4 separate regions of the Homo sapiens genome follow, and regions 1, 2 and 3 are each reported to be linked to region 4. Evidence: microRNA targets listed by miRTarBase, many of them from high-throughput screens and not tested one by one. Region 4 holds a microRNA gene; each other region holds the end of a gene's coding sequence.
The links. The annotated mature microRNA hsa-miR-6814-5p reads UCCCAAGGGUGAGAUGCUGCCA and lies in region 4 at 3,541-3,562, opposite strand. An mRNA with a match to its seed (bases 2 to 7 or 8) in the 3' UTR can be bound and repressed. Matches are read on the target gene's strand: a 7mer-m8 pairs with bases 2 to 8, a 7mer-A1 pairs with bases 2 to 7 and ends in A, and an 8mer does both.

Region 1: miRTarBase lists RABL3 as a target of hsa-miR-6814-5p. Seed matches in the 3' UTR shown: 7mer-A1 at 2,057-2,063 and 7mer-A1 at 2,572-2,578.
Region 2: miRTarBase lists SIGLEC9 as a target of hsa-miR-6814-5p. The part of its 3' UTR that is shown has no 7-base or 8-base seed match.
Region 3: the mRNA of TMEM92 is a reported target of hsa-miR-6814-5p. Seed matches in the 3' UTR shown: 8mer at 5,040-5,047 and 7mer-A1 at 4,498-4,504.

What each region holds. Positions count from the first base shown.
Region 1 is chr3:120,683,338-120,690,495 of GRCh38, reverse strand. RABL3 (RAB, member of RAS oncogene family like 3) reads left to right here. Exons shown (of 8, transcript NM_173825.5): 7 at 9-47; 8 at 608-5,558. The coding sequence ends at 673. Among named protein-coding and RNA genes, the nearest start is that of HGD, 4.7 kb to the right of the region's middle.
Region 2 is chr19:51,129,118-51,136,275 of GRCh38, forward strand. SIGLEC9 (sialic acid binding Ig like lectin 9) reads left to right here. Exons shown (of 7, transcript NM_014441.3): 7 at 774-1,193. The coding sequence ends at 962. Among named protein-coding and RNA genes, the nearest start is that of SIGLEC9, 7.8 kb to the left of the region's middle.
Region 3 is chr17:50,278,527-50,285,526 of GRCh38, reverse strand. TMEM92 (transmembrane protein 92) reads right to left here. Exons shown (of 5, transcript NM_153229.3): 3 at 6,897-6,971; 4 at 6,531-6,726; 5 at 4,042-6,332. The coding sequence ends at 6,219. TMEM92-AS1 (TMEM92 antisense RNA 1) reads left to right here. Exons shown (of 4, transcript NR_125805.1): 2 at 1,320-1,569; 3 at 2,976-3,059; 4 at 3,651-3,948. Among named protein-coding and RNA genes, the nearest start is that of TMEM92-AS1, 5.8 kb to the left of the region's middle. RefSeq lists a silencer at 1,836-1,885.
Region 4 is chr21:41,743,275-41,750,432 of GRCh38, forward strand. It overlaps MIR6814 (microRNA 6814), which reads right to left and starts at 3,567; the gene lies at 3,498-3,567. RIPK4 (receptor interacting serine/threonine kinase 4) reads right to left here. Exons shown (of 8, transcript NM_020639.3): 4 at 5,880-5,929; 5 at 3,339-3,497; 6 at 2,485-2,588; 7 at 608-866.

The DNA.
Region 1 (7,158 bases), not on the chromosome of region 4:
TTTCACAGGTCATAGAGAAGAGATACTTTTTAAGAGAAGGTAATCAGGTTGGTATCTCTTTTCTTGATAAAATAGATTCTTAAATTTTGATAGGTGATTTCCAAATTTAAGTTCAGAAGTAGTTTTAAAAAGTTGGGGAAAGCCCTTTATAGGCACAAGCAACTGATTTCCTTCTATCCTGTTAAATACAAAAGGAGAAAATCAGAACAAAGGGAAAATAAGGATCTAGGAAACAAATATAATCTAGGAATAAGATTACATTATAAAATAGAAGAAGAAAATAATTTGCTTGGGACTCCAAGAGTATACGTTCAGGGTCTGTCACAATACAAATAATTTCTATAAAAGTCTAGTAGGTATTATGAGATTTACCTTCATTCTTTCTGATTTAGATGACACTATCACCAATTTGTTGGGAAATGTTTTCCATTTGGGTAAGATTTATTTTTATTATTTAATCTGTGGTTTTCTGAGTAAAACCTCAGAAAGTTGTTTTTTTAAGAAACAGCAGGCTGACATACAGAAATGGAAAAGAAGGGAAAAATTACTATTAGTATTTGAACTTTTATTGCTTGAGACTTAATGCAATTATCTTTCTTGCCTACAGATTCCAGGCTTTCCTGATCGGAAAAGATTTGGGGCAGGAACATTAAAGAGCCTTCATTATGACTGAATTACACTCATCCTTTGGAAGAGTGAGCAAGCAGTGGCAGTTTTTCACAGCTCATCTTGCTGTGTTCAATTATTACCATCACAGCCTTTTAACAAAATCATCTTAAAATGCTACCCTTCAGCCTTACCCTTTAATGGAAAAATGAAAGGAAGTGACAATACGGGAGGTCCAAACTTTGTCCCTGTTCTCTGTGTTCCTTACCTTTCTGTCCCTGTGTATAGATTATGTAAAAGCCTTGTGTAAATATGAGATGTTGTCAAAATGATGCAGTAAATGAGCAATGACAGTGTACTGCAGAGAAAATTTACTCTTGCCTAGAACTGGAGGGTTTTTATGGGTCTGTAATTTTCCCACACTCATTGCTGAAAGCTTAATTAAGTACTTCAAAAACGTATCTCCATTGTTTTACCTTCTTGAGGGGAACGGTCTTGTTAACCAGCCCTGAGTTGTCTACCCCAAACAATCTCTGTCATTTTCAAAGATGCAAAATGGTGTTATTTAATTGTCTCCACCATTGTCACACACAGGAATGCCTAATAATAGCAACCCTTGTCTCCCTCTTCTCTCCTTTGCAAATGGCTCAGTGACTGGAAGAGGCGGACTAATAGCCAGAGTTAAATATAAATACAAATTAATAATACATAGAGAACAGCAATACCAGAAAAAAAGAATTCTGGTAAAATGATGTGAAAAATTGACAGCTCCCTCACTCTTAAGGTTGCTGCTATATACAGTCTAGGTTTTCTGTTTGGAAATAGGTAGGGTAAAATCTAAGACCTGCACAAGGGCAGTGAGAGACATTTACAGCCTCCTCTCTATTTGTTTTTTTAAGGAAAAGTCAACTCCTGAAATGTCCCTTAGCTATAATCAGAAAACTAAGAATATTATTCTGTGTCAACAATGTATTTATGGAGAGAAGTAAAAATAAGTTCCACAGCAACACATTTACATGAATTATGAACTAGGATTCTTGGATTTCATAATCACTCCAAAGCTTTTTGGGGATGGTGTGTGTGTGTGTGTGTGTCCGTAATTGTTCATCATTACTTTTTTTAACCTATCTTTTTGCTTGCTTAATCTTCTCTGCCCCAGTTCTTCCTGAGTATATGAATTTGATTTCTAAAAACAATTTATTCAACACTCTATCACCCGTATTCTCTCTCTGGCTCTGCTGCAGGTCTCTGCACTCCTGATTTTGCTCCATACTTTTAAATAACAATAATAAATATACAGTTTTCATTTCTCATTTAAAAAATAGGTGGAAAACACCAAATTCACTTTCTGTTCCATTTTAATTAGGTTTCAGAAGTATCTTGGAAATCAAGGTATGCTGCAAGAGGATATTAAAATAAGAATGTTAGAGAGTCCTTTTAGAAAGGCAGTCTTGGGAATTTGGAAAAGGATTTTTAAAGCAGCTTTCATCAGCTAGACTGTTCTCCAGCCTTTCTTTACTTCCTCTTTGAAAGGACATAGCCCTGGTTTCTTTTTGACACAAAGGAAAGCTATGCAAATCATGATCTGTATGTAGAATTGGTCACAAGTATGTTGTTGCATAGGCTGTACAGTTGGGAAGTAGAAACCAAATGCTACCCAGAGACCTAACCCAATTAAGCTCTTTGTATTTCTCCTTCAAGAAATAAATCTTCCTTCCTTCTTTCTTCCTCTTTCTTTTAATTTTAAAAAAATTCATCCTGATTTTTTTATTTTCTATCTTATTTAAAAAATAAAAATAGGCCAGGCGCGGTGGCTCACACCTTTAATCCCAACACTTTGGGAGGCGGGTCGATCACTTGATATCAGGAGTTTGAGACCAGCCTGGCCAACATAGGGAAACCCTGTCTCTACTAAAAATACAAAAATTAGCCAGGCCTGGTGGCACGCGCCTGTAATCCCAGCTACTTGGGAGGCTGAGGCAGGAGAATCACTTGAACCTGGGAGGTGGAGGTTGCAGTGAGTCAAGATCGTGTCACTGCACTCCAGCCTAGGTGACAGAGTGAGACTCCAACTAAAAGAAAATAAATAAATAAATATATAAATATATAAATAAATAATAAAAGTAAACTATTGCTGATGACTCCAGGGTCAATCTGGAAAAATTAACAGTATTCCTCAACTCCATTACTTTCTGCAGCCAAGCTTGATTCCTTGAATTATAGTTTTCTAAGAAAAAATAGTTTTTAATAATCTAAGGTAAATTTGTTGCAATTATTAGCAGCAGCATAATAAGGCTTTTTGCGCAAATGAATGTTATTAGCTAGAGTTATTCAAAAAAGAATGAAGCACAATTTTTGCTAGGACTTCTTGAGAACTATTCATAAAAATGCTTTTAGATAATAAACAAGTATAAATGTCAAAATATTTTTTTAAAAGTATAATTGGCCAGGTGCTGGCTCACGCCTATAATCCCAGCACTCTAGGAGACTGAGGCAGGAGGATCACTTGAGCTCGGGAGTTTGAGGCTGCAGTGATTCATGATTGCACCACTGCCTTCCAGCAGCCTGATGACAGAGTGGGACTCCATCTCTTTACATATGTATATCTTACTCTCTTGATGGGACAAGTTGGTAGAAATAAAGATTTTTTTTTTCTGTTGTGATTTCGGTGTCTGACCAATTTTCTGACTCATTGTGAAGGTGACCAGATATGAAGGCATATATATGACTACTCCTCTGTCCCTTAGGTGTATAAGACTTAGCTGGAATCCAACTAAAGATTTGGGCTGGTCTCTCCATCTTAACGTTGATGGGATTCAGGACACATAACCCCAAAATATTGCACCCTGTTATTTGAGAAAACTGCAGAAGCAAGGTTTCTCATACCTTCCCCTTACCCCTTCTCCCCTGAAGCAGGCCATAAACCCTAAGTGACTGTTCCCTGAAGTAGATCATAAAACCTTCATTCCATAGGTACCCTTTATCCTCACAGATACAGAGACACCAAGAAGAATCTGGACAAATAGGACTTGCTAAGTTCTCCACAGTTTATTACCATTAGATTATGTCCTTTTGTCCTCTGATTATACTTCTGCATAAGACTGTACATAAAAATACACAAGTTTTCCTATTTCTTTTTTGTCTTCATTTCTGAAGATTCCTGTCATGTAAAACTTACAGTAAATAAATGTGTGTGCTTTTCTCAATAATCTGTCTTTCGTTATAGGTGCCTCATTTGTGAACCTAGTGATGGGTGAAGAAAGAAAGCTCTTCTCCGCTACAGTGCTCTAAGAAAAGCTATTCCCAAAAGAGTTGATCCATATTAGCTTTAGCTCGGGTTCTTAGAATTCCTCAAACTTGAGGCATTCATGATATAATCCAGGTGCCCTGACACTTGTTTTTCTGTTCATTCTGACATGGACTTCATGGAAATGATGTGCAGGGACATCAGACTGAGGTGAAGAGCTCCTAATTGCTCCTTGTAATCAGAGTTTCTGAGTCCTCATTTCAATAGTTTGCAGTAGCACCCACCATAGGTAGGACCTTGTATGGGTTACTAGATGGTGGCTTAATTGAATTTTTTAAAGCACAGGTGACATCATATTTTAAGAAGTTTAAAGGTCTAACAGGGTGTCTGCATTGGTTTAATATATGTTAAAATTCAAAGGAGGAGTCTGTTTTGGGGAAAGGAGGAGAAGGAAATTAGAAATTCATTTCTCCGCAGTCCCAAGACTGAGCTAAATCACTGTGGTGGGAGAGGAAGGGTCGCAGGAAGTCTAACCCTGTGTCTCAAATATTTCACAACATGTTTGCCTACACAAAATATCTGATGTTAGGGTCAGCTGGGGCTGCTCCATAGCATAGTAAAGGAATTGGACATCCAGTTACAATTAATCTGCACCTCCATTAAGGACTCACATGGAGGGCTTTCAAACTCTGAAGTGTGTAAGAATCCCCTGAAGTGCTTGCTGAAAATGCAGATTCCACGATTTCCTCTCTCTTCCCTTACTCTCCCCTTTCTATATGTATAGGATAAGGCCAGGATTTTGTATTTTTAACAGACAAGCCAGATTTTTCTCATGCAGATAAGTCAGGATCTAGCCTTTAAGAAAGACAAATAAACTCATCAAAAAGTAGGGAATATAGATTGTGAACTCTGTACTTTATGAGTGCCATTATAGCAGAATTCATCAAAGCGCATCTTTGACTGCCTCAACCTGATCTCACCTTAATGAACTGATCCACTCCTCCCCACTCAAAGCTACATATGCCAAATTAAACATGAGATGATTGTCATGTCTTCTGTTGGCAAAACAAGTATTTGTCTTTCATGTATTGCTATCATTTTTATTACTGCCACTGTTTTTCCCCTGGGTTCTGTTTTTAATCCAAATATATTTATTTCTAACCAGTGCCTTGCCATCTTACACACAGCCCCCTCTCTAGTACTGTGTTTTCTCAGCTGGCTAATCACTAAGCTTTACCGAGGTCATCAATAACTAATGACAAAGAATGGAACCCCTAAACTCCAACCAAGGTGTAAAACCTCGCTCAGTACCATCAAGTATATCAGGTAATCTCTCCGTTCCATCTTTTTCTCGGAGACATCTGTCCTGGAGTCCTCTGATGCCTAACTCCGTTTTGGAGTGATTACTCTGTAGACCTGTCACACCCTGCTTCACATTACCTTGTAGCAATTCCTGGATGTAATGTTTTCCACTTTCTATCCAACTCTTACTCTATGGGACTTGGCTCAGACATAGTCTTCTCTGGGAAGCCCTCCCTGGCTCTGCTCGTCTGGGCTACGTGCCCACTAGTGCTTCCCCTAGATCCCTGGGCTCTTTCCTGTCAGAGCACTTACACTATGTTGTGATGGTTTTCAAAAATTGTTAAATAAATGAATGTATAATTACATTAATTAAAATGGAAAGCCATTAGACATAGAATCAGAACTTATCTGTAGCTGTGTAAGTTATTTATTCTCCAATCCCAGCAGGACATGATGGCTTATGCCTGTAATTCCAATACTTTGGGAGGCTGAGGCCAGAGGATGGCTTATGCCTGGGAGTTAAAGGCTGCAGTGAGCTGTGATGATGCCACTGCACTCCAGCTTGGATGACACAGCAAGACTCTGTCTCTAAAAAAAAACATTAAGTCAGGTGCAGGAGTTCACGTCTGTAATCCCAGCACTTTGGGAGGCTGAAGTGGGAGGATTGCTTGAGCCTAGGAGTTCAAGTTCAGCCTGGGCAACATGACGAGACCTCATCTCTACTAAAAAATTTTTAAAGTAGCCGGGTGTGGTGGTGTGTGCCTGTAGTCCCAGCTACTCAGGAGGCTGAGATGGGAGGATCGCTTTAGCCCAGGAGGTTGAGGCTTCAGTGAGCCATTTTTGTGCCACTGCACTCCAGCCTGGATGACAGAGAACCTGTCTCAAAAAAAAAATTAAATAATAAAATAATATTTTAATATCCCCTGTGTGTATTCTCTCCTTTTAGAAGGAATCCCTAAAGTTTAGTGAAAGATGTATTCAACTTTAAATATTTTCAAGCCCCTCAAAGTAATTTTAATCCAGTCAAGGAACTGTTAACACTTTCTTACCCCTTCAGAAGTCTCTCATACCTTAGGAAAGAACTGAAACACTTCTTAAATCTGCCTTCACAACTGGTTCAATGGAAGTAACATAGAAAGTTTGTTGAAAAATAAGGCAGTAAAGATTTCCCTTTGTCTTTTATTAGCTCCCATTTGTTTATCTAATGACCAACTGCTAACTTCCAAGATCAATAGAGATTGAAGGCCCAAGGTACTCATAAACTTAGATACACAGGAGATATTTTCTTCGAATTCAGTTTCAGAGTCTGCATGTTATAGGAATAGTGAAAACTTAGCCTCAATAAAGCTAGGGCCTCCACCTACCTTCCTCCTAGGTTTGCATATGAATTCCAGAATAGTTTATATAATGCCACAATGCCATCTGTCTATGCTGACATATGCTGAGGTTTCCTATCAGCTGCCCGGTCCGTAGGCATCAGTCCACATGGTTTGCTACCAGCATGTTTCCTATCAACATGTCCCCTTTGGTCTGGCCCAGTCTGTGCTAGCACCTCATACACAGGCAATAATTCTGCTGCTACTGCAGTATGCTGGAGCCTGGGGACCCTTGGAGGTTGTTTAAGCCCATTTATCTAAAGCAGAGGGTCTCAAACTAGCAGCCTGTGGCCACTTCAAATATGCACATGTTTTTCAACCTGCATGATTATATCAGTTATTTATCACTGCTTAACAAACCACCCCAAAATTTAGTAGTGTGAAATACACCATTCTATTTGTTCCCAATTCTGTGGCTCAGCAGTTCGGGCCAGATTTAACTGGTGGTTCTTCTGCTGGTCTTGCCTGGGATCACACATGTTCTGCAGTCACCTGGCAGCCAGACTGCCTCATTCACATGTCTGGCAGTTCCTGTGGGGCTTGCAGGGCTGTTGCCTGGACCTCTGGAGGCCAGCCCAGCTTCTCTGCACTGTGGTCTCAGGCTGCAAGAATGGGCCCTGTCCTAAG
Region 2 (7,158 bases), not on the chromosome of region 4:
TGCAGCAGTGCACATTCTGACTTTTTTTGTTTTTTTTTTTTTTTGTTGTTGTTGTTTTTGAGACAGAGTCTTGCTCTGTCGCCCAGGCTGGAGTGCAGTGGTGCGATCTCTGCTCACTGCAACTTCCACCTTCCGGGTTCAAGCCATTCTCCTGCCTCAGCCTCCGGAGTAGCTGGGACTACAGGCGCCTGCCACCACGCCCAGCTAATTTTTTTGTATTTTTAGTAGAGACGGGGTTTCACTGTGTTAGCCAGGATGGTCTCAGTCTCCTGACCTTGTGATCTGCCCACCTTGGCTTCCCGAAGTGCTGGGATTACAGGCGTGAGCCACTGTGACCGGCCACATTCTGACCTTTTAAGCACCTACCTCTCCACTAGGGCAAGAACAAGGGTGAAGTGAGTGAGGCTGTTGCCTCAAGTGCATTTTTTCGTTTGTTTGTTTTTGTTTTTTGAGATGGAGTCTCGCTCTGTCACCCAGGATGTAGTGCAGTGGCACAATCTTGGCTTACTGCAACCTCTGCCTCCTAGGTTCAAGCGATTCTCCTGCCTCAGCCTCCTGAGTAGCTGGGATTAAAGGTGCACACCACCACACCTGGCTAATTTTGTATTTTTAGTAGAGACAGGGTTTCACCATGTTGGCCAGGCTGGTCTCAAACTCCTGACCTCAGGTGATCCGCCTACCTCAGCCTCCTGAAGAGCTGGGATTACAGATGTGAGCCACCGCGCCCCATCCTCACTGTCTGCTCTGACTCACTTCTCTCTCCCATGTCTCAGGGGCCCCTGACTGAACCTTGGGCAGAAGACAGTCCCCCAGACCAGCCTCCCCCAGCTTCTGCCCGCTCCTCAGTGGGGGAAGGAGAGCTCCAGTATGCATCCCTCAGCTTCCAGATGGTGAAGCCTTGGGACTCGCGGGGACAGGAGGCCACTGACACCGAGTACTCGGAGATCAAGATCCACAGATGAGAAACTGCAGAGACTCACCCTGATTGAGGGATCACAGCCCCTCCAGGCAAGGGAGAAGTCAGAGGCTGATTCTTGTAGAATTAACAGCCCTCAACGTGATGAGCTATGATAACACTATGAATTATGTGCAGAGTGAAAAGCACACAGGCTTTAGAGTCAAAGTATCTCAAACCTGAATCCACACTGTGCCCTCCCTTTTATTTTTTTAACTAAAAGACAGACAAATTCCTACCTCTCTGTACCTTGGTTTCCTGCTCTGTAAAACAGGAATGAGAAGCCCTACTTGCAAGGTTGTGGTCACCATTCCAGGAGTCACATCCCGTTAGAGCTCCTGGCACAGGTGTATGCCGAGCACTGATGGATCGCTGTGCTTTGAACACAAAGGTCCTGCTGGGAACCTCTCCTGATTCTGGTGGCAACTAGTACTTATATGTCTGTGTCACTTGCCTGCAAAATAGCGATTCTGCAACTTTCCAGGAAATAACCTCAGCCTGCAAATCAGGTCTAGGTAGCATCTGGATCCTGCCCACCTCTTCAGCCTCATCTGCCCACCCTGTGACTGCTAGGCCGCCTTACTCTCTGCAGTCTACGTATTGTGCACAGTCCAGTGGGAATCTTTAGGACACACTGAGCTCTCTCCGCACTGCTCACAGCCCATCCATGGCTCCTGGATCCTGAACCTCCCATCACATCCTCTTCGTGACATCACTCTCCCACTTCAGTCCACTCCTCCATCTTCACCACTTAACCCACTGGTCCCTCTGGTCTTTTCCAAATCATTTGCAACATGCCCTGTTGGTTCATACCTCAGTCCTTGCACACTGGGGACCCTCCTCCTAGAACGCCCTCCTCCTGGGCCTTCTTCTGTCTCTGTCTTTGAAAATGGAGTTCAAGGATTGGACTTCTGGGTTGAGCTGAGGGAGAGAGTGAAGCAGCAGCTCATGATCTCCCTCCTCTAAAGCCAAACCCAGGGAATGAGAAACGTTTCCAAAGGGGCACAGGATCATCTGGCAAATTAAACAACATGATCCAAAAAAATTTACCTACATGCAGCACCCGAACGAGGAAAGGGACATCTCACAACAATCACTTTATGCAGTAGCCCTGATAGGAAGAAATCAAAGGACTGGAGGAAGCACTAAAACTTCCCTAAATCTAGACTCTTGCCCATTTACGGCAGCATCAAAAAACCGTAAAGTACCAAGGAACAATTTTTTAAAAATCATGGCCGGGCACAGTGTCTCACGCCTGTAATTCCAGCACTTTGGGAGGCCGAGGTGGGCAGATCACGAGGTCAGGAGATCGAGACCATCCTGGCTAACATGGTGAAACCCTGTCTCTACTAAAAATACAAAAATTAGCCGGGCGTGGTGGCGGGTGCCTGTAGTCCCAGCTACTCGGGAGGCTGAGGCAGGAGAATGGCGTGAACCCGGGTGGTGGAGCTTGCAGTGAGCTGAGATCGTGCCACTGCACTCCAGCCTGGGAGACAGAGCGAGACTCCGTCTCAAAAAAAATAAATAAATAAATAAATAAATAAGTAAAAAATCATATCCGAGCTGGGCGTGGTGGCTCACGCCTGTCATCCCAACACTTTGGGAGGCTGAGGAGGGCAAATCACTTCAGGTCAGGGGTTCAAGACCAGCCTGGCCAACATGGTGAAACCCCATGTCTACTAAAAATACAAAAATTAGCCAGGCGAGGTGGCGTATGCCTGTAGTCCTTGCTACTTGGGAGGCTGAGGCAGGAGAATTGCTTGAACCCGGGAGGCGGAGGTTGCAGTGAGCTGAGATTGTGCCATTGCACTCTAGCCTGGGCGACAGAGCAAGAGTCTGTGTCAAAAAAAAAAAAAAAAAATCCTATGCTATGGTTTGGATATGGTTTGTTTGGCCCTGCCAAGCCTCCTGTTGATATTTGATGCCCAGTGTTGGCGGTGGGGCCAAATGGGAGGTGTTCAGGTCCCGGGATTGGATCCCTCATGAATGGCTTGGTGCTGTCTTCAAGGTAATGAGAGAGTTCTCACTCTGTTACTTCCTGTGAGAGTTTCTCCAAGAGCTGGGTGTTAAAAAGACATTGGCACCTCCCCTCCCCAGCCCGTGCTTCCTCTCTTGCCGTATTGTCTGCACATGCAGACTTCCTTTTGCCTTCCACCATGAGTGGAAGCTTCCTGAGACCCTCACCAGAAGCAAAGGCTGGTGCCAAGCATTTTCTATGTGGTGCAGAACTGTGAGCCAAATAAACTGTGGGGGGTGCACGGCAACATATTCAAGCTTATGTACAAGGCATTTGAGGTCGAGGCATGGAAAAATACTGAGGCACCGTGTGCGTGTTGTTTGTGCATGAGATTGAAACTCCTTGACCCTGAAAACAGGGCAAGGAACGGAATGTGTGATAAGGAGCGCGGAAAGCAGCCTCCTGAGACTGTAGTCTGAGTGTTTTTACCAGGCCATATGTGTCTCATGACCCGACCGCAAAAGGCCATCTGGTGGACATTTTGGTTTAACAAACCCTTTCGAGAAACACTTGGCGGACGGATTCTGGGGCGGCACTCTTTCAGAGATGCTGCTGCCGCCGCATCCCGCTCAGCTGGAATTGTCTGAGTGCTTCATTCTTGGCGTTCACTGCAGCTACAAGCTGTATAAACCTCTTTTCTTTATAAATTACCCAGCCTCAGATATTACTCTATAGCAACACAAATGAACTAAGATAACACGGAATGCTTCTGTACTGATGAATATAGAACATTTTTGAGAGACTTAAGGAAGGCCCAAATGAAGGAAGAAATATATCACGTTCATGGATTAGAAGGCAAAAATGGTTAAAATGTCAGTTGTCTGCATATTGATTTAGGTAATCCCTGTCAAAATTCCTATATATATATAAAATATATGTATATGTGTATATGTATGTACATAAGTATAGATGAGTGTATATGTATGTATATTGTAAATATAAGTTTATATATATACATATATAGTTATAAATTGATAAGTTGGTTCTGAAATTTATATAAACACATAAAAACCTAGAATAACCAAATCATTGTGATAAGAAACACATTTAGAGAAGGCAGACTTTAACACTAGAGTAATACAGAGAGTGTGGTGTGGACTAGAGTACAGTCTACAAATGGACCCACACATATACAGTCAACTGAATAGCATCAAGTCTATTCAATTGGGACAGGAAAGACTTTTAATAAATGTTGGTAGGTGGTCGGGCGCGGTGGCTCACACCTGTAATCCCAGCACTTTGGGAGGCTGAGGTGGGTGGATCACTTGAGGTCAGGAGTTCAAGACCAGCCTGGATAACATGGTGAAACACCATCTCTACCAAAAATACAAAAAAAAAAAAAAAAAATTAGCTGGGTGTGGTGGCAGGCAACTGTAATCCCAGGTACTAGGGAGGCTGAAGCAGAATTGCTTGAACCCAGGAGGCAGAGGTTGCAGTGAGCCAAGATTGTGCCACTGTACTCCAGCCTGGCGACAGAGTGAGACCCCATCTTGAAAATAAATAAATAAATAAAAAATAAATGTTAGCGGAACAAGTGAAATTAGGGTTGGTAAAAACGAGTGTTGAGCTGTTTCTCACATCACACGCAAAAAATTAGCCTGAAGCGAATCATAAACCTAAAAGTAAAAGCGGAGACTATAATGTTTGTACAACTGTGCTGTTTGATATGGTAACCACTAGCCACATGTGGCTACTGAGCACTTGAAATGTCCTACATTTAGTGAGAAAATAATATAAAAATCTAAGTAATTAATATTTAAAATTGATTACATGTTTCCATGTAACGGCATAATACTCATCAATATATAATAACAATATATAATACATGCAATAGCTTGAATAAATTTTGAAAACATCTTGAGTCAAAGAAGCCAGATGCAAAAGAATACATGCTCTGTAGTTTCACTTATATGAAGTTCAAGAACAGGCCAAACTAATCTACAAAGACAGAAATTCATAACAGTGACTGCCTCAGGTTGGGAGTGGGATTTGGGGATTAACGTGAATGGCACACAGGGGAACTTTCTGGGGTCCTGGGAATTTTATTTCTTTCTTTTCTTTTTTTTTTTTTTTTTTTTTTTTTTTGAGAAGGAGTCTAGCTCTGTTGCCGGGCTGGAGTGCAGTGGCTCACTGCAACCTCCGCCTCCAGGGTTCAAGCGATTCTCCTGCCTCAGCCTCCTGAGTAGCTGGGATTACAGGCACGGGCCACCATGCCCAGCTAATTTTTGTATTTTTAATAGAGATGACCACCATGTTGGCCAAGACCACCATGTTGGCCAGGATGGTCTTGATCTCTTGACCCTGTGATCCAACCACCTCTGCATCCCAAAGTGCTGGGATTACAGGCGTGAGCCACTGCGCCCAGCCAGTCCTAGGAATAGTCTATGTCTTAACTGGGATAGTAATTATGTGGTTATGAATCAAAACACATTGAATCACGCAAATAAAATCTATGTATTTTACTGTATGTAAATTTACCTTTCATGAAAGAGAAATTAAAAACTCTTAAATGATGAAAGCTTTTGGTTCCCTCTTTTTTATTAGACTAGCTAGTGATCTATCAATCTTATTTGTTCTTTCAAAGAACCAACTTTGGGGTATACTGATCTTTTGTAGGAATTTTCGTATCTCAATTTTATTCATTTCAGCTCTGATTTTGGTTATTTGTTTTATTCTGCTAGCTTTGGGGTTGACTTGCTCTTGTTTTTCTAATTCCTCTAGGTGTAATGTTAAGTTGCTAATTTGGGATCTTTCTAACTTTTTGATATGGGTATTCTGGTACATTGCATCTTTACTTTCCTGGATGCTAGGACCAAACTGGACTAGAGTAAATTACGTGGTTCCTTCTGTCCCAAAGAAAGATGTATTTTTAACTCAGGAGCTACATCAGCCCCATCTGGCTACATTAAGCATCCCAGTCTCCTCTGCGTCTCATGCTGGACTCTATGCAAAAGGGACAGCCAGCGAAAGCATTATTGATATGTCAATATTGAGATGTGAGAATTTGATCCTGTCATTATGTTGTTAGCTGGTTGTTATGTAGACGTGATTGTATAGTTGCTTCATAATGTCAGTGGGTTATACACTTAACCACTTAACACCACTTTCTGTGGTGTCATGTAACATTCTTTCACTTCTGTGTTTGGCACTCACTTAAGGACCTCTTATAAGTCAGGTCCGGTGGTAATGAATTTTTTTCAGTTTTTGTTTGTCTGAAAGGGATTTTATTTATCCTTCGTTTATGAAGCTTAGTTTGGCAGGGTATGAAAATCTTGGCTGAAATTTGTTTTCTTTAAGAATGCTGAATATAGGCCCCGAATGTCTTTGGCTTATATGATTTCTGCTAAAAGCTCTTCTGTTAGCCTGATGGGGTTCCCTTTGTACATGACCTGCCTCTTCCTTTTAGCTGCATTGAATATTTTTTCTTTCATGTGAACCTTAGAAAATCTAATGACTCTGTGTCTGGGGGATGGTAATCTTGTACAGTATCTTCCTGGGGTTCTCTGAATTTCCTGAATTTATATGTCAACCTCTCTAGCAAGGTTGGGGAAATTTTTGTGGATGATATCCTCAAATATGTTTTATAAGTTGCTGCGTCTCTCTTTTTCCAGGATTCCAGTGGGCCGTAGGTTTGGTCTCTTTATATAATCCCATATTTGTTGGAGGGTTTTGTCATTTTTTTTAATTCTTTTTTTAAAAATTTTTGTCTGATTGGGTTGATTCAGAGAACTGGTCTTTGAGCTCTGAGATTCTTTTCTCAGCTTAATCTATTCTGATGTTAATACTTCCGCTTGTATTATGAAATTTTTGCAGTTTTTCAGCTCTAACAGATCAGTTTGATTCTCTCTTAAAATGATTATTTTATCTTTCAGATCTTGAATCATTTTATTGGATTTCCTACATTCCTTGGACTGGGTTTCGAGTTTCTCCTGAATCTCCGTGATCTTTGTTGCCATCCAGATTCTGAATTCTATGTCTATCATTTCAGTCATTTCAGACTCATTAAGAACATTGCTGGGGAGATAGTGTGGTCACTTGAAGGTAAAATACTCTGGCTTTTGGATGTGTCAGATTTCTTTCACTGGTTCTTCCTCATCTGTGTGGGCTGATGTTCCTTTAATCTTTGAAGTTGCTGTTCTTTGGATAGGGCTCTTTGCTTTTATATTCTCTGATGCCCTTGAGGGTT
Region 3 (7,000 bases), not on the chromosome of region 4:
CAGCTGGGACTACAGGTACATGCCACCGAACCCTGCAGAATCTTAGGGGGTTTTGAAGGAAGGAAGGGTCTCGTTTAAGTTTCTCCAGCCCCCAAGCTCCTTCCCTCCTCAGGCCTTTGCATATGCTGACCCCTCTGGGAACCTGAATGGTGAAAATACAGCAGCCCTGTGAAGACTGGGAGGAGGGCATTGGGAGGGAGGGAAGTTCCAAGCAGAAAAGCCACCAAAGGCCCTGGGCCAGGCCAAGATTTGGGATAGTCAAGTCCCAGAGAGAAGGCAACTGTGGCTGCCACGCAGTGAGAAGGGAGGAGAAGTAGGAGAAGACGCTTGAGGGCAAGGGAGGGGCCACACACTGCCTAAGTCCTGCCAGCTACGGTCAGGGGTTTGAAGTTTATTCCAATGGGCAACTTTAAAAAAAATTTTTTTTTGAATAGGGTCTCGCTCTGTCACCCAGGCTGGAGTACAGTGGTGCGATCACAGCTCACTGCAGCTTCAACCTCTTGATCTCTTAAGCAATCGTCCCACCTCAGTCTCCCCCTGCCCCACCTCCGCACTACCCCGCCCTGCCATCGGATAGCTGGGACCACAGACTCACACCACCATGAGTGAAGCCAAAAAATACAAACATACTTTTTGTATTTTTTTGTAGAGACAGAGGTCTCTCTATGTTGCCCAGGCTGGTCTCGAACTCCTGGGCTCAATCGATCTTCCCTCCCACCTTGGCCTCCCAAAGTGCTGGTATTACAGGAGTGAGACATGGCGCCCAGCCCATTGGAGGATTTTTTTTTTGAGACGGAGTCTCGCTGTGTCACCCAGGCTGGAGTGCAGTGGCACGATCTCAGCTCACTGCAACCTCTGCCTCATTGGAGGATTTTAAGCACGGGAATAACAAGTCTTGTTTGCGCTTTAGAAAGATCTCCCTAAGTGCAGTGTGTGGGATAAACTGCAGGGGGTGAGATGGAGACAAGCCTGGAGGCAGAAATCAGGTAGTTCATTAGGATAGGCTGGGCTAGGGATGAAGGTGGCTTGGTCGAGGGCTGTAACCGTGAAATGGGAATAAGTGGGCCTAGGTCTATTTTGCAGGCAGCGCTGTCAGGATGATGGAGTGAGGGAAAAAGAAATCACAATAATTTCTTAGTGTTTTAGCCTACACAGCTGGGCGAATGGGGAGCGACATCTATTTATGATAGGAGACCTTGGGAAGGACTGGATTTGAGGGGGTGGTGGAGGGAAATTCGAGCCTGCTTTTGGCTGGGAGATGCTCATTAGGCATCCAAGAGGAGGCGTGAGGTAGTTAAATATGTGAATCTGAGTCCCAGGGAGAAGTCTCGGCGGGAGATTAAGTCTTGAGATTCATCAGACCAGAGATGGTCTGTGAAGCCGCAGATCAGGATGACAGCCACTATGGGAATGAACAAAGATGAAGACCGGAGACCCCAAGACAGACCTCCGGGGCAGCCATCACTGAGAGAGGGCGGAGGAGGAGGGGGAAGTGAAGGCTCCTGAGGAGAAGGCCATGTGGAGGAGGGAAACCAGGGGAAGGTGGAGTCGGAGACATTGGAAGAACAGGTAAGGAGGCCATGGCCAAGCGTGTCAAATGCCACTGAGAGATAGGCAGGGGAAGGGACCTTTGGCCTTGGTGACATGTAGGTCACTGATGATCTGGACTAGAGTCATCTCCTGTAACGGTGGGGACAAACGGCTGCTTGGAGCAGCACAGAATGAAAGTGGGGAGGGGGGAGGTGGAACAGCAGATGCCAGAAGGGCTGGGGGCCTCCAGGGAGAGTTTCTAAAGGAGGAAGGGTGGGCATGTTATAAGCGGATGATAATGATCCGGGAAGGGGAGAAAGGCTCTGCAGAGACAACTGCAGGGCCAGGCCCTAAGGAGCAGGAGGGCTGGGGCCCAGTGCAGGCTGGAGGAGCACGATGCAGCTTCCACTGTGCTCTGGCGGGGGAAGGGGGCACGCGTGGATACTGGGTGGCAAGTGTGGGGCATGGAGGTGAGGTGTGCTGGTGTGGGTGCATCCTTTCTTTCTCTGAAGCGTGTGGTGGCATTGCCAGCTGAAATTGAGGTTGGGGGTGTGGGAGATTTGAAATGAGTCATTTCAAGAGCGGGGAAGTGAAGCTGTGAAAGCACATTGGAGGAACCGAGGGCCTGCGCGAAACGTGTGGTTTTGATTTGGAAATGAGTCTAGTCACACAGGGGTGCTGGTTCTTGAGCCATAGTTGGATCCAACTGGAGTTTGGAGTTTGGAGTTTCTCTGGGTGAGCACAGTGAATGGGGAAAAGGGGTAAAGGATGCAGGGTAGTGACTGTAAGGATGGTTTAAGGACATGGTGATGGCGCTGCCAACAGGCAAAGACTGCTGGTTCAGAGGGCTGGGTGGGCTCAGAGAATTGCTGGCATGGTGTGGTGGTGACATAGGACCTACCTGAGCTGGAAGTACAGGAGGTGATGTTCAGAGTGGGAGGCTTGAGGTGATCAGAGCTGACAAGATAAGGTATGTCCACTTGAGACTGTGGCCAAGGTAGAGTGGAGGAAAGCCTGTTGGTGTTAAGGAGCTTCTCTGAATATTCTTACTTGGCCCTTCCCAACTTTGTTTTTTGTTTGTTTGTTTATTTGTTTTGAGACGGAGTCTCGCTCTGTCACCCAGGCTGGAGTACAGTGGCGTGATCTCAGCTCACTGCAACCTCCGCCACCCAGGTTCAAGCGATTCTCGTGCCTTACCCTCCCAAGTAGCTGGGATTACAGGTGCCCACCACCACGCCCAGCTAATTTTTGTGCTTTTAGTAGACAGGATTTCACCATGTTGGCCAGGCTGGTCTCGAATTCCTGACCTCAAGTGATTTACCCACCTCAGCCTCTCAAAGTGCTGGGATTACAGGCATGAGCTACCGTGTTGGGCCCCTTCCCAACTTTGGATTCAGAGCTACGTCCTACCAGAGCCAGAAGGGGCCACGCTCTTCACTGTACAGATGGGCACACCAACGCCTGGAGATGTTGGATGCAGAAGGCGAAATGTCAGAAGCTGGAGTCCTGCATCTCAGCTGGAAGGTGAGGTAAGATTCCTGCTGGTGTTTATCCCTCTCCTCACTTCCCTCAGCAGCAGCCCCTTTCTCCTCCCCTCCTGCATCCCTGGAGCAAGTGCCTTAAGGCCTTCCTGCTTCAACATGCCCCCCACCCTACAGCCTTTCCTGCATTTCCCTGTCCTCTGGGGAGTCCCTGCAGATAGAAATTCAACTGCACAGCCACGAGGAACATCTCCTTGATGTTAACTAGACTGTGTTTCTTTACAAATATCTGGTGGCAGATCTCTTCATTCATTCATTCATTCATTCATTCATGCACCCATTTAATCTTCATTCATTCATTCCATCTTTCATTATTCACTCATTGGGTTTGAGCAACTAAACCAGCCACGAGGGATGAAATTCTCCGTCACTGTGAAACTGCTCATTCACCCAACTAGCCAGCTCACTGTTTCTGTCATTCATTATACACCTCATAAGTCCTGCATAGGTCTGAGATGTGGGCTTCATGTATGTCTGGCAGGCATCCAGGCTTTCCCATCATGTGTCTGTCCCCTGGGTCACATCCATGTCAGGTGGGTACCACAGTCTAAAGTCCTTGTATTCTCTTCCACATACCAGGGCTGATAATTTATCAGTTGCCATTGATCAAAGTTCACAAGGCAAATCTTCATAAACTTCTAAAGCTGCCTACAGTTTCCCGTAAACAAATCTCTAAATTTACAAAAGCAATGCTTGCTGATTGTAAAAAACACACAGTGCCAAAGCATACAAAGGAAGAAGACCCGCTTGCAATTTGCTACCTACATCCCACTCTTGGGGCCAACAACTATTGGAAGTGTGGTGAGTGATTGACTTACATCCTTCTAGATCTTATCTACATATTTGCAAAGAAAAAATATACATATATAAAATAAAATATGTGTGGGTTATATCCTTACAAACTGAGATCATAGGCAGTTCCGCAACTTGCCTTTTCTCTGTAACAATAAGTGATGGATGCTTTGCAGGGTTGGTGCTACAGATCCTATTTATTCTTTTAAAAGGCTGCATAGGGAGCTCTGGTGGCACAATGAATTAGTGCATGATACTTATTGAGCTCTTTTGTATGAGCACTTCTGAAGGCTCATTTCTAGAAGTGGAATTGCCAGGTCACGTGCATTTTACATTTTAATGGATACCCAGTGCCAGGCATAGTGTTTCCTACATAGCAGGAGCTTCGTAAAGATCTGTGGCGTGATTACATGGTGCCAGATGGCCCTCTAGAAAGGTGACACCATTCCCACTCCCACCAAGGATGACCAGAAGAGCCACAGAGGTTTCCATTTCTGTCACCAGGTCACAGCAACACTAGGTTTCAGGATGGCCACTTTCCCTAGGGCCACTCTGCTACTCCCTAGGAGGAGTTAAAGGCCCTGTGATGAAAGGAAGGCAACGTCTGGGCCGAGGGTAACTTCTCCTCCAGGTCTCCCAAGCCCATTTCTCAACATCCTCCTGCTATCACGGTGAGGGCAACATCAGCTGCAGGACTTCTCTAATTGGAACTAGCCACATCTACACAAAGAACCCACATGTTTTCTGCCACCCCTGACCAATCCCTGAAAGTAAAGGGAAACTTCCACTTACGCTTGGGCTCATTCTCCTATGGCCAACCCTGGCACTATATTGTCAGTAACTGCTGCACTCCTTCCAGGGCCCTATCTCACTGGGAACCCACACCCGGACAGTCCCTGTTCCTGGCATCTTTGGGGCTGCCTGTGCCATCAAGCTGCCCCCAGCTCTGCCACCTGCCTGCGTCCTGATGCCCCCAGGATGAGCATTATTGGGAGAGCACTAAAAGAGGCACCCCTGTTGGCATACCAGGGCCAGTTCTACCTCCAATCCTCCTGAGAGCTTTGGCCAGCATTGACATGGGGCTCTCTGCCTGGAGAAGGAGGCTGGCATTGAGTGGGCTGTGGGGGCGCAGTGCAGAGGCAAAAATCAGGGTGGAGGCACTCAGCCCTGTCTGAGTCCCAAGGCATTGGCATTGTCCCGCCCCATTCTGCATGACTATGCCAGGCCCCCATGGGTCGAACCCCAGTGAAGACTCTTCTCCCCTAGGGGGTTAACTCCCACGAGCGAGCGGGGCTGGTAGAGAAGGGTGGAACCTGCCACCTCCTCACCTTCCTGTAGGAGATTCCAGGGTGGGGCCGTTCAAGGTCTCCTAAAGCCCCACTCCACGGATGCCCAGCCCCACCCACTGCTCTCCTGGGCTTTTCCCCACCCCCATTGTCTCCCAGCAGGTGGTTTCCTGCTATCAACAGCAGAATGGGCTGTCCCAGGGCTGCTTCCTGGATCCAACCCCCTCACAGCCAACTTACCAACTTCTCATGGTAAGACAGCCAGAGAGCTGGGCTCCATGTGTCCCAGGAAAGCCTTGGGCGGAAGGGATTGGGAAACCCACACAAGGGACACGCGTACCCCATTTCCAGGCTGTTTGGCACACAGAGACATCAAAAAACAGACAGCCAATACATCTAGAACAAGCCTCTCTCCGAGGGCGGCCCATGGATGGACTGTCCTCCCAGACCTCCCAGGTGGCTCATCAGTGGTGGGATTGCGGCGCAGCGACCCCATCACCGCACCCCTCAGCAGTGCCTGGGCTCACCTCTCCACCCACCTCCCCACACAGCCAGAGGCAGGCCCTCAGCCGCAATCAGTAACATTCAGTGAGGACATGTGTTTATCATGTGTTGTGGGTGGGTGCAGTGAGTTCTCTATTCAGGTAGGAGTGGAAGCTGGCTCAGGGCTCATCCAGTCCAATGTCCCACAGGTATAGAAGTGCCCTGATAAAATCTCAGAGCTGGCTGTCCAGTCAAGATTTGCATACCTCCAGAAATGGGGCTCTTACTACCCCTCACAGTAGCCCATTCTACTGTTGGGCACCTCCAATGGTCAGCATTTTCTTTCCGGCAGCCTCTTTCTTGGGCTGGGGGGTGGGCGGAAACTGTCACTCCAGCCTAACCCTCAGGACAAGAGAGGCAGCTGGGGTGGAAACAGAAGCAGAAAAAGTAATAAGTTAAATCCAAGAATGAACAGAGACACGGCAGGATGGGCAGGGACATTCCTGGGGTGCCAGCAGTCTCTAGCTTGATCCAGGAGGCACTGGGGAGGAGGTTGCTGATGGCAAGATTCCAGGCAGGAGGTGACTCAGAAGGCCGGGTTGTCAATGCCCCTCTGATCCCCGGTATATTCTTCAGGCCTGAAGCTGTAGGGAGGGGGTGGCTCTGTGGGAGTTGGGCCCAGGCTGGGCTTCAGAATCACCTGCAGGGAAAAGAGAGAATTCAGTCTTCTGGGCCCTGGCCCTGGCCACCACTCCCCCATCCCAGCTGAGGCATGGTTACCAGGGAGAGGGGTGACCCAATGCTGGGTGCAGAGTGCCCTCCAGGATCGAAGGGCCCTCCACTGTCTCTGCTGCACAGCCGGCCAGAGGCAAGGTGGGGATGGGGATGAGACACCCACCTCACTGTAGGGGGGTGGGGGCGCAGAAAGGGATACTCTGACCCTCTCTGGGGGGATGATGGAGGGCAGTTCCAGGGGCCCCCGGCAATCCACTGGGCTGTCTGGCTCCGGCTCTCTGCAGTTGCGACAGAAGCACTTAGCCAGGCCACAGATGCAAAAGACGGACAGGATGACCAGGAAGATGATGACGAAGATCCTGGGGTGGGGACCACCAAGAGTACCCTGAGTCCCCAGGCCACCCTGGGGACTCCCTACATCTCCCCGCTCCCGCCGCCCACACTGCCCCCTCGGCAGGTGCCTGGCCTTGTCCACACAGGACCAGGCCCCTCCAAGGACTGCACCCAAAGGAGCTGGCCCTGGGCTCACCTCACGGGGCCAGGGAAGAGCTCGTTCTCCTGGCAGCAGCTGTCACCACAGCATTTGAATCCTTTGGGGCAGGCACTGGTCAGAGGGCACAGAAAAGGGCAAGG
Region 4 (7,158 bases):
ACCCTGGGGCAGGGATAGGAAAAAAAGCACCTTCCAGAAACAAAAGCCATCAAAATTAACATAAAAAGATGAGATTAGCTAAAAGAGAAGTGCTCCTCCCTATCAGGTGGTTTGCAAAGGTGGCCTGGTGGTAAAACCTCCAAGGATAACCAACACATTACTAGGCCTGGACTACCGTGAACGGGGAGCCCACATATGCGAAGGCGTGGGTGTGTACCCAGCAGCGTCTGAGCAGAGGGTGCGGGACTGCCACGCCCGAGACAGGAGGCCCGCCAGGGAGTGGGGCTCGGCTACTCGCCAGGCTCACTGCACTGGAGGGGGTTTCCAATCTGTAGACCTGAGGTCAGCCTCCACCCATGGCACTGGCACAGGCAAGACTGCTGCACAGACTGGTGATGTGGCCTGTTCCCCACACATGCTAAGTGACATAAGACGGAGCCAAATGCCCAACACACAAAATTAATTACTTAAGACAGAGAGAACACAAAGAAGAATTCTTGCTGGGTCAAGAAACTGTCCCCTTGATTCCGTTTAGCTTCTCACTGAGTCCAGTCCACTGTCCCGCCAAGCCCAGCATCTCTCGGGACACAGAGGCGTCCCCACTCACCGCTGGTTGAAGGTTCCCGCTCAAAGGACAGCGACAGTGATCCTCTGGAAGAGAAGGCGGAGTCCACCGAGGACACCCCCGAGAGCCTCTTCCCACTGCCGGACGATGGCAGCTTGGACTCAGAGGAGCTGCGGCTGAGCTCCTCGGGGCCCTCGACAGCCTGGGAAACTCCAGAGTCCAGCTGTGAGAGCAGCTCGGAGAGGCTGTAGTCGTTATCGAAGGTGGGGGCAGAGGCCCGCTTGAGCCTCGCAGGCACCACCTGCGAAGATGCAGAAGAGGGGGTGGGTGAAGACCCTGCCATAGACCGCATGGCCCGCCCATGACACAAACACAGAAGAGCAAGGTGGGCCACGGGAGGGAGATGGGGGAGGAAAGGACGGACCCTGGAAGCAATGCAGATAACCTATTGGTCACCGAGCTCAGACCCCGCATCGGCACAGCACTAGGGAGCTCAGACGCCATGTCCACACAGCGCCGCGGAGCTCAGACCCCGCGCCCGCACAGTGCCGGGCAGCTCAGACCCTGCACCCGCACAGCACTTGGGATGCTCAGACTCTGCACCCGCACAGCGCCAGGGAGCTCAAAGACTTGGAGCTACAAAGACTTGCGCTGGCCCCACCCAGCACGGAGACATCTTAAGGAAAGATAGCCTTCATAAAAGTGCAAAATCCAGCCTCATGCAGCTCTGGATACCATCTGCTCAGTAACACTGCACAGAGCGTCACCCAGACAAAAGGCAGGCGGTGTCAAGCTGCAGAATGTGAGGCATGTATGGCGGGACACAGCTGCCCAGCACAGGCCAGCGTTGGCAGGAAACGAGAGGACAGACAGGAACTGGGCAGGACCCCCACACGTGGCCACAACTGCGACCTCCCCGCGGAGCCACGTGGGGCTGGCCTGGGGGCTGTGTGGGGACGAGGGAAAGGGGAAGGACCCGGCTACAGGGACGAGGGGTGATCCAATCCGACATACACCGATGGGGCCTTTTAAAGAGTCTCGCTTCATGGACTGCAGGGGCAGCAGGTTTCTGGTGGGTAAGTGGAATCTGACGGGATTTCACGCTTCTTCCCTTAGGCACACCTGTTTGCCCCAACTCCCCACCCTTTGTGGGACGGCTCGAGGTCCCGCACTGTTGCTGGGTGTACCGAGCCACCCCTACATGTTGGTTGCCTTCTTTCCCTTATCAGGGCCCAGGTCTGCCTCTGTACTAGCAACCCCCGGGCACCTTTGCTCCCGGGCTCACTGGCACACATGCACTTTATGTTGAGGCAGTGGGCGCATATTCCTGATATACATATTTCCTGATCTCCTGAGCTCACACCAACAGCCTGGGATTAATCGCCCAACACCAGATAACACGTTATAAAGCTCACTTATCAGCTGGGCCTCACAGGTCTGCTCCAGCCTCATCACCCGAAAAGGCATTTAGCCAGCCCTGCTACTTGGAGCTTCTTATCACATCTGAAATCACCTGGGTGGCACTCATCAGAGTGCAGACCATTTATGGGCAGCTATAAAGGAACTGGATCCCCGAGCCAGGGGTGCAAAGACACTCAGACACCAGCTCTCCCTCCCCGGCCGGGGCTGGGCCTTCTGATCCCCGTGGTCCACACACATCCAATGAGTGGCTATTTAGTGTCAGGGAAGCCCTTCCGCCACTCACGCAGAATCAGACAGGAGGTGGGGCGGGGATGCAGTCGGGCAGGTGGACCTGAGCCCCCATGGGACCTACACTTCTAATGGAGTTGGGTGCGGGATGGGCTCAGAAGAGAGGGAGAGTGGTCCGGGCGGCGGGGGACTCTGCAAAGAGGAGTGGTTTGGAAACTCCTGCCTGGAAGCCGAGGAGACAAAAGACCCCTGTGGGAAGGACTCGTTACCTCGCTCCTGGGCTCCGGGGGGCTTTTCACGTCCAGATCATGAGCAGTTTCTTTCACTTCGTCATCAGGCTTTTCACACAGGTCCTCGGTTTCAGAAGTAATTTCTTGTGGGGAAGAAAGGGGACATGTCACTCGGATGATGACTTCTGCGTACACACGCGTTCCATATAAACGCAGGGCCCCCACGAGCTGGGGGATTTCTCACACGCCTCGGCCCAGCCTGAGCTCACCAGGCAAGCCCAGGGGCCCTACATGGACAATTTGCTGGCCAAACCCAGGCCCCCCCATCGGTAATCATTTGAAGGCCTCACCAGACTCAAGGCGGAAGCCTTCCCCGGGGGAGCGCCACCTGCCAGTCACAGGGAGCAGAGCTGCCAGCACCTGGCGGATGAGCTCCCCATTCAGCCCGTTTCCTGCCGTAAGCTTTAAATGCAGCAGTTTCCATCTCATCAGGGTGACTTTCCTATGCCAGAGACACATCTGTCCCAGGAAGTCAACTCCTCAAGAGAAGGGCGACGCCGCCGGCCACCGGCCAGGTAAGTCCCCGGGAAGAGCATGGCTGCACCTGAACTTCAGGCTCCCATACAGACTCCTCTGGGTGGCAAGCCCAACCCTGGTGGGGAGCAGGGGGCGGATGGTTGGAGGCAACTCAGTTCCAGCTGCCGTGGCCGAGCCGTGAGTACCAGAGGCCGCAGGCAGGTGCTGGGTCCAACCTATCTGTGCAGGGCTCATTTCGGCCCACCTGTTACACGCCTTGTTTCTCACCCAGGCCTGGTCCCTCACCCTGTCCTGTCTGTCACCTCTGTCTCCTGTGACACCCACAGAATGTGGCGGGGAGACCCCGGGGTGCTCACCTTGGAAGGTGGGCCTAACTCGCGGATCCCCCTGCCAGCACCGCTGCATGAGGCGTATCAGGTGGCTGCAGGCGCGCGGCCGGGCTCTGCACACGGGCGGCAGCTCGGGGCGGTGGCCCTTCACCACCTTCACCATGATGTGCAGGATGTTCTTCTCATCTGCCAAGGGAAGGATGCGAGTCAGGGGCTCTGCAGGGCTGGGTGGCAGCATCTCACCCTTGGGAGGAAACGACACACTCGCCGGGGGCCACAATGGGGCCATCCCCACACCACCCCAGGGAGACGGCTCCCCCACTCCGTTTCAAAGGCAGAGCTTCCTGTAACCCTCACCCTCATGGTGCGCCATGCTCTCTAGTTTCCTGGTTTTGAAATCGACCTCTTTCCCTGGGTTCTGATCTACCAGAAGGAGTCAGTGTGTTTGGTCACAGAGCAGATCTTTCTAGGCATCCCATCCAAAGGAAGATGAGGTTCAAAGGAGAACAATATCTTATGAGGCTCATTCCATCAACAGCCCAAGCCAGCAAAGGGAATGAGGCTCACGCACCATGGAGGAGCCACAGCGTCCTACATCCACAGAGACCCAACTCTCTCTACAATGGCGAAGAAGTCTTCCTCAGTTCCAACTCCAATCCCAAGCTCAGGTCCCCAGCTGGCCTCCCCTGCCGGTGCACCAGGGCTGGGATGTGTGGAAGGGCTCTTTCCCCTCAATTCACCATGTGGGGCCGCACCTGTCCTTTCCAACTGCCTTCACTAGCATGCATGGGCTCTAGCTTATTATTATTATTGCCACAACTTCTACCCTGACTGGGAAGGGCCCAGGGTGACATCCAGTGGGCCAAGTTCTTTTTTCTGCTTAGCCTGGAACCCTCAAGGTTCTTGTTCCCAACAGCCCTCTCTGCCCTCCAGATCCAAACACACCCACGCATGGAATGGCAGCTCTTTGGAGAGGCCATGTGCCTCAGCAGGTGTGGAAAATCAGCCGAGAATCACCCACGGCTGCCAGGATTCCATACAATGTTTTGCTCCACTTTCCCATTAAATCTTGTGCAATAAATATCGTTAAGTGTTTAGCAGGCTATTTCCATGATTATTCAGACTTCAAAACCAACAGCTCCTCTAAATAAAATGGAAGCAAACTGAAGTAAACGCCCGGAATGTTTCCTGCTGCCAAGCACAGACTGGAAAAGCTGGGGAGAGGCCTTGTTCTCCTGCACCTTGAACCCCCTCCTACCCATTTTTGCCTGAGGTTGCAATTTTTTGAATTTGAAAAATCAGACCTTGGCGATGACCTTGAACAGTAGGACACGAATAATTCCCATATGATTAGCGTTCCAATAAGGGAACACTAGGCATATTCAGCAATAAAGCACAAGGGCTTGAGCCTTGACCTGTCCCCTGCGCCTAGCTTCGGGTGTCACATCTATCAGACACTGCCTCATTTCACAAGCCTTCGGGCTGTAGGCCACTGTGCGGGAGAACGTACAGAAGGCAAGAAAGGCGACAGGCGGTCAGACAACACAGACGGACACCGGCCAGCAGAGGCCTGGCAGGACGCGTTCTGTGCTTTCTACTGACATTCTTTTAAAGCTGCCAAGATACTTGATCTTGCGATGCTGGAAGATCTCTTCTCACCCCAGCACTTTCCCATACATCGGCTCCTAGTCTGAGCCCCGACTAACAAGGGGCTAGGCCTTGACTCTCATCTTCATTTTTAGACATTTTCGGTCACACCACAAAATATCATGAGTAGCCCAGAAATGTCTTTAGAGGAAAAGGGAATCTGTCCAACAAAGCTAAAAAGTCCTGGATTTTTATGATAAGTAAGTCAAGGTGTGACAACTTTGAGGATGGTGTTCGGAATGGTGGCTGCCTGGCTGGGGAAGCAAACACCACAGCTCTCAAGCTGGGCAGGGGTGCCACTCCTGCAAGCAACTCCATGGCACTGAGCAGCTCTGGAGGTTGGCTGCGCAAGCACGCGGGTACATGTAATGCTCCTGAACTGTATGCTTCACACGGCTGACATGCTAAGTTTTGTTCTGTGTATTTTATGACTATTTTTTTAAAAAGTAAACAAAAAAGAATTAGCTGGAAATACCAGCACAGGCAAACCCCTGGAGACAGAAAGCAGGTGAGTGGTTGCTGGGGCTTGAGCAGGAGGAAGGGCGAGGGACTGCAGAATGGCCATGGGCTTTGCCTTCTAGCATGATGAGAATGTTCTGGAATTAGACAGTGGTAACGCTTGTTCAACACTGCCAGTGTAGTTAATGTCACTGAATTATACACTTTAAATGGCTAACATGACCAATTTTATGTTATATATATTTTACTACCACAAAAAAACTAGCTGGCACCTAAAAACATTCCATTGAACAGGCCCCTTCAGATCTGTGTCTTTTCCTGCATGCAAATTACACCACAGAGCAGCACCTATGGCAGCGTGGATCACAGGCTCTGTTTTAGGATAGAGAAAGGACAACAAGGTGTCCCCCCATTATTCCAGGAAAGACAAGCACATTACACCTCAAAGACAGGTCCACTCACCTGCAAACGGCTTCTTCTGTGTGAGCACGCCCCAGATGACGATCGCAAAGCTGGAAGAGAAACCAGGCACGTTAGCATCTGACAGCCAGAGACTCAAAGCCAAATGCACTCATGCACAGCAACAGGCGTGAAGACACCTGTTCTGAAGCCTTCCAAAGACAGAGCCATGACACCGAGATATTTCTCCTGTTTTTAAAAAGAGAAAATTCTCTATAGTGAAGCCCAGCATGTTGATAGCTCAGATGTCAGACAGACTCAAGTAACTTCGCCAACTGGGCTACAATCTTCAGGCAGCTTGAGGGACTTCCAAAGAGGGTGCCACCCTATGCGGGGCGTGAGCTCCTGGGGAACAGCGCCTGTGTGCCTCACTGATATCTTCTCGCAAGCACCAGGCACAGAGCACCTGCGCAGGCATTTACTGAAGAAATGGATGAATGAATGATGGGCAACTCCCATGCCCTCCCCCAACAATGATTTCATTCTCTGAAAACACGGATTCTGGTTCTGATCAGCGTTCCTAACGTAGGCTTGCTGAGATTTCAGCGTTCCTAACAGAGGCTCACTGAGAGTTCATCATTAGAGGGTTGTTAAAGAAAGTGCGCAGAAAACGTAGGAGACAACACAGCTGAACGCCCCAAAGCCTTTTTCGGGGGCTGCTTAGAAATATATAGATAATATGAGGGATACGTTCATGTACATTACTCTGGATACACCAAAAAAAGTGCCCAAATTGATTAAAAAAAAAAAAAAAAAAAAGAAAAGAAAAACAGAAGTCCGAAAACTGAGCCTCCAAGGAGCACTGAGTTGGTGAGGGCTGTTTATAGACAACGAATTCACCATCGAAAATTAGTTCAAACGGCAGGTTCAAAAGCTGGAACTCCAAACTCTAAAATAAATGGAGAGGATCTCAATCTCCCCAAACTCTACAAGCTGTGACTAGTCTCCAAAGTGACACTTCCAGGCAACTCTCAGCTTAAAGCCCCAGCTAAGCACATGCACAATGGCCACTGTCAAACCAGTCAGCCTGGGCTGCTGGCGGCGGCAGTGACCAAAAGGCAGAGCTCACATGCGGGGTCCGAGTCACAGTGCTGCTGGATAACAGCCACAATGGGAGGCTTAGTGCCTGCTCACACGCTCCCACCCACTTTTCTTCTCCAAGAAGTCTGTGTGATTAAGACCTTTACAATTTGAAAAAGGAAGGGACTAGGTGACTTGGGGATTGATCTCTGACCAACAAAGGTTAAGTGCCATGAAGAAGATGAGCTGCTCGCCTCACAAA